Regions from separate parts of the Homo sapiens genome. Here region 2 is linked to region 1. Evidence: fine-mapped expression QTL. A gene starts in region 1. The other region holds a variant in brackets. All regions are shown on one strand. Distances are between the middles of the regions.

Region 1 (2,926 bases):
CCTGGGATTACAGGTGTCCGCCACCATACCTGATTAATTTTTGTATTTTTGTGGAGACGGAGTTTCACCATGTTGGTCACACTGGTCTTGAACTCCTGACCTCAGGTGATCCACCCACCTCGGCCTCCCAAAGTGCTGGGATTACAGGCGTGAGCCACAGCGCCTGGCCTGAAACTGCATTTCTTATTAACAAATGCAATGCAGTCTCTACTATTTCTTTGCCGAAAATAACAATGAGTATGAAGAAAAAAAAGGGGAGTTAAAGCTTCTGTTTTTGGCACAGGATACAGTTAAGTTGTGCTACTGGCTCAGACTCTTCTTGGTTGAAGAGCATTCTCTCATCATCTGCAGAACTTTAGTGCAGTAACTGCTGAGTATTTGAAAGTCTAATCACCATTAAATCCAAAATGTAAGCCCCTAGGTAAGACTTTTAGAAAGATACATACTCTGTCACTGGTGGTTCCTGAACAAACGGATAGTATGTGGCTGCAGAGCTGGGGAAGACACATGCTTCTGAGGACTCTAACCATGCCACATTGAGCCCGGCAAATCTGGGGACAAATGGTTTGACATCTGCTGATAACTTGATGCCCTGAGGAAAAATATGAGGTTTTGGCCACAAACATTCAGAGATCAAGCAAATATAAACAAACAAAAAGACCCAAGAGGTGTTCCTAATAGCCCCAGAAATGTTCCCGATGTTGTTTAAAAACTTCTGCCTCGTAAAGACAAGAACCTGCTTGCTAACGATTTCTCCCCAATGCTTTTTTTTTTGTAGAAAAGGCAGTAGTTCAAACATTAAAAGTGAAAAATGACAACGAATTCAAGTGGAAATAAAACAACACAGATTATATAGTTTAGATCTTGGAATAAGGGTGTTTTTACCACAGATTCACTTAGAAATAATAGAACTGCACACAGTACAACTACTGCAGTCAAATACACGTGGACTGTTTAACTACAGCACCCAAAACACACTGCAGACGTTTATTTCCATTACATTTTCTTGAAAAAGTTGCACAAAAGCATATGCATTTTACTCATGAACCACTAAGTCTTGCTTTATTGAAATACCAAACCTTGCTTTGCTAGAAAATATTATCACCACGAGCCTTTGAAATTTCAATTCACTAAGATTTCTTTCTTTAGTTTTTAGTGACGTAGTAAGAGATTTACTTTCACCGAGAATTTTATGGGTCTAAAAATGATGCAAGCGATCGCCAGGGCTCCATCTAGTGGTAATGCTGAGTACGTAGAGCGGAGAATGACGTTCAGAAAAACGCAGGATCCTTTAAAACAATCTATCCGTTCCCAAGAGCGCGGGAAGCTCGCCAGAGTCCCCCCGCCCCGACTGCGGGGAGCGCCGGGCTGGGCCGCAGTCACTGCGCTGGGTGACATCGCACCACAGACGCGGCGCTAACTGTGGGCGGGGTCTGTAGCCGCTGACCGCCACCCCAAGGCGGACCCGAGGCGGGGCGCGAAGATCGCGGCCACCCGGTAGGGCGCTCCCGTGCCGTCACCAGCATCCGACCCACGCCCGCTGGACCAGCCCCGTCACCGCCCGGCCGAGCCCCCAGTGCGAGGCAGGCGGACGGACTGAGGCTGCCGAGAGAGCCCCCGTCGGCCCTTACCTCGCTTTCGGGCTCCCGCGGCCCCTCCGACGCCATGCCGCGAGGCGCGGAGGAGGCCGCGTCACGGAGGCCAGCAGCGGGCCGTCGGCTTGCCGGACAGACAAAGCGTTTCCGCCCCCGCAGGCGACGCCAGGAAGTGCGTCACAGCAAAGCGACAGAGCCCGCCCTTTCTTCCGGCCGGAAGTACGCGGCGGCGGCACTGGACCTGCGCGGGCAGCACGTGGAGGCAGTGGGGCGCTTGCGGAAAATGGGGACCCCCAGGAGTCCTCTGGGCTGGGGACCCACCGTAGCTTGCGGGAGTCTTGGATCTGCCTTTTAGTGCTGGGATATCGGAGATAGTCTCCACCAAGGCAGTAGCGACTATAAACAAGAGTTAGGCCGTGATTTACTTTTCTCCCCTGGGCCTCACGAGTCTAGCGTTAGGACGGGATGGGGTAGTCTGGAAAGGCCTCTCGCTGAGGTGACCTTTGAGCAGTCACCTGAAGAGAAAGATTTACTAATAAGGAAACTGAGGAGGCCGAGATTACTCTCACCCCCGCCACTGCATTTCCCTAAAATTTCCCCAAGATTGGTGACTTACAGGAATTGCATACCCTGTAGGTCCTACAAACCTGGAAAGCCTACAAGACTCTTGATGGTATCCTAAATTTCCAGAAACCTTAAGTTTGGAAGTAGCCACAGAAAATAATTTAAAAATCGCTCGGTTTCTTTCAAAAATTAAAAAAAGTGCTAAGATATGGTCAAGAGATGGAATAGTATAATTTTCACGAGAAAAAAAAAGTTCTACACAGAGCAAATTCGTTAAATATTGAGAGAAATGTATAAAGTGCGGCAGGGATAGGAGGTTGACCAAAAGTACAGGGAAGAATGCAGAGTGGATTTCAATAGATGGAGGAGGAACTTTCCTCTCACTCAAAGGCTTGGAGGAAAGTGCAAGTGGATTTAAGGAACAGAAAATGTCAGCAAAACAGGCTATTTGAGGAATGGGGATTAGGTTGAGGCAAATTGTAGGTTTCCTCTGTCCCTTGCACAGACGTTAACTCTACCATTGAATACGAAGTATTTCAAGCAAGTAAGGCAGGTGCAGCTCCAGTTTTTTCAGATTTCTGTCCTGGTGGGTCTCAGTTCACTACACAGCCTCTAGCAGAAGTGATCCTTAGGGTCTGGTCTGGCAGGAATTTATGCTGGAAGTTTAGGGGTAGCTGTCGCCTTCCTTTCAGCACTATTGGGTCTACCCGGAAGTGTAATGAAGTTTACTTGATTTTGTCATGTTTCTGTTGGTTACCCTGGACACA
Region 2 (2,926 bases), 25 kb before region 1:
AATCATAAATATGAAACTGGTAAATACATATTTTTTCCTTGTTCCTTCTCTTCTTTAAAAGATATGGCTGTATAAAGTAGCAGTTCCAACACTGCAGTGTTTGGTTTATAATCTATTTAGATGTACCATATGACAATAGCATAAAGGGGGAGGAAGAAAATGGAGACCTACTGGAGTAAAGTTTCTTCAATATATAAACTAACATGTATATTGTAATCCCTACAGCAACTGCTAAGAAGGTAGTTTTTCAAACTAAAGTTAAAAAAAACAACAAAGAAATCAAAAGTGTACTCTAAAAACATTTAACACCAAAGGCAGTAAAGGAGGAAGCGAGGAACAAATGACGAAGTTGACAAACACAAGCAATGGGGAAAGGACTCCCTATTCAATAAATGGTGCTGGGATAACTGGCTAGCCATATGCAGAAAATTGAAACTGGACCCCTTCCTTACACCACATACAAAAATCAACTCAAGATGGATTAAAGACTTAAACGTAAAACCCAGAACTATAAAAACACTGAAAGACAACCCAGGCAATACCATTTTGGACACAGGAACTGACAAAGATTTCATGACAAAGACATCAAAAGCTGCAACAAAAGCAAAAATTGACAAATGGGATCTAATTAAACTAAAGAGCTTCTGCATTGCAAAACAAACCATCATCAGAGTGAACAGACAGCCTACAGAATGGGAGAAATTTCTGCAATCTATCCATCGGACAAAGGTCTAATAGCCAACATCTACAAGGATCTTAAACAAATTTGCAAGAAAAAAAACCCCATTAAAAAGTGGGCAAAGGACATGAACAGACACTTTTCAAGAGACATACACGTGGCCAACAAGCATACGAGAAAAACCTCAACATCACTTAATCATTAGAGAAATGCAAATCAAAACCACAATGAGATACCATCTCACATCAGTCAGAATGGCTACAACGAAGCTGGCGAGGTTGCGGAGAAAAAGAATCGCTTATACACTGTTGCTGGGAGTGTAAATTAGTTCAACCGCTGTGGAAAGCAGTGTGGTGATTCAGCAGACCTAAAAACAGAAATACCATTTGACCCAGCAATCCCATTACTGGGTATATACCCAAAGGAATATAAATCATTCTACTATAAAGACACATGCATGTGAATGTTCACCGCAGTACTATTCACAATAGCAGAGACATGAAATCAACCTAAATGCCCAGCAACAGTACACTGGATAAAGAAAATGTGGTACATATACACCATGGAATACTATGCAGTCATAAAAGAGAATGAGACCACGTCCTTTGTAGGAACGTGGATGGAGTTGGAGGCCATCCTTAGCAAACTAACGCAGGAACAGAAAACCAAATACCACATGTTCTCACTTATAATTGGGAGCTAAATGATGAGAACACATGGACACATGGAGGGAACAACAGACACTGGGGCCTACTTGAGGGTGGGAGGAAGGAGAATATCAGAAAAAATAACTATTGGTTACCAGGCTTAGTACCTG[C/A]GTGACAAAATAATCTGTACAACAAACCCCCATGACACAAGTTTACCTATATAACAAACCTGCATGTGTACCCCTGAATCTAAAATAAAAGTTTAAAAAAAAGAAGATCCACAGATTTAAAAAAAAAGTAGAGTTTTTTGAAATAATAAACTACTTCAAAAGGAAGAAACATATCTAAAAGCCTATGGTGGAAAATTTTCATGTTGCTTTTTATGACATATTGTGCGTTTTAACTGTCTTGGCTCTTAAGAGAAGATGTGTCAGAGGAAAGAGGCAGCCACATCAGCACTACTCAACACTGTTCCCAGTGGTGCCCCATGCACAGGCAGTAAACCATTTCCATGGAATGCAGCTTCCTCACCCAGACAGTAAAGATCTTCAGAAACTCAGGACACTTCTACAGATAAGGAGATTTTCAGCTACACAATGTCATCATATCAAGTGGAAAGCTCATCTTTTAATAAGATCAATTTTTAAAAATCATCCTATTTTAATAACTTAAAAATGTTTTAATTGTGGTAATATGACATAAAATGTACCATTTTAACTGTTTTTAAGTGCACAATTCAGCTGCATAAATTATATTCACAATGTTGTGTAACCATCACTACTATCCATTTTCAAGACTTTTTAATGCTCCAATGAATACTCTGTCCCCATTAATAATAACTCACTATTCCTTTTCCCCTCAGCCCCAGGTATCCTCTAATCTATGCTTTTATGAATTTGCCTATTCCAGATATTTCTTTTAGGTGGAATCACACAGTAGTTGTGTTTCTGTGTCTAGCTAATTTTATATGGTATAATGTTTTCAGGTTTCTTTCATGTTGTATCATGTATAAGAATTCATTCCTTTTTTAAGGTTGCATATTACATTGTGTAGGTATACCACATTTGTTTACACCATTATGTGGTAATGAACATTTGCGCTGTTTCTACCGTTTGGTTATTGTGAATAATGCCATAACAAACCCCAGTGTAAAAGTGTCTAAGTCTGTCTTCTTTTGGGTAAATGCTGAGGAGTGAAATCGCTGAGTCATGTAGTAACTGCATTGAGCATTGTTAAGTAGCCACCAGGTTGTCTTCCACAATGGCTGCACCATTTTACATTCCCACCGGCAGCGTACGGGGTTCCAATTTTTCCACATCTTCACTGACACCTGTTATTTTCTGTTTTTGGATTATAATCATCCCACTAGGTGGGAAATAGTATTTCACTGTACTTTTGATTAATATTTATTTCCCTGATGACTAATGATATTGAGTATCTTTTCACGCACTTATTGACCACTTGTGTACTTCTGGAGAAATGTCTTTTCCAGTCCTTTGCCCATTTTTAAATTGGATTGTTTGCTATTCAGCTGGAGTTCCTAAATATTTGAATATTAATCCCCTATCAGATACATGATTTGCAAATATTTTCTCCCATT

What was found.
Region 2: its variant is fine-mapped to the expression of SECISBP2 in whole blood (TOPMed, PIP above 0.99). The same link has a PIP of 0.9 or more in gastroesophageal junction, testis and tibial nerve.

What each region holds. Positions count from the first base shown.
Region 1 is chr9:89,317,318-89,320,243 of GRCh38, reverse strand. It overlaps SECISBP2 (SECIS binding protein 2), which reads right to left and starts at 1,744. Exons shown (of 17, transcript NM_024077.5): 1 at 1,632-1,744; 2 at 447-592. The coding sequence starts at 1,667. RefSeq lists a silencer at 1,385-1,704 and an enhancer at 1,875-2,094.
Region 2 is chr9:89,342,018-89,344,943 of GRCh38, reverse strand. The region is part of intron 10 of SECISBP2 (SECIS binding protein 2); the gene reads right to left. Among named protein-coding and RNA genes, the nearest start is that of SECISBP2, 25 kb to the right of the region's middle. The variant C/A (reference allele first, on the strand shown) is at 1,497.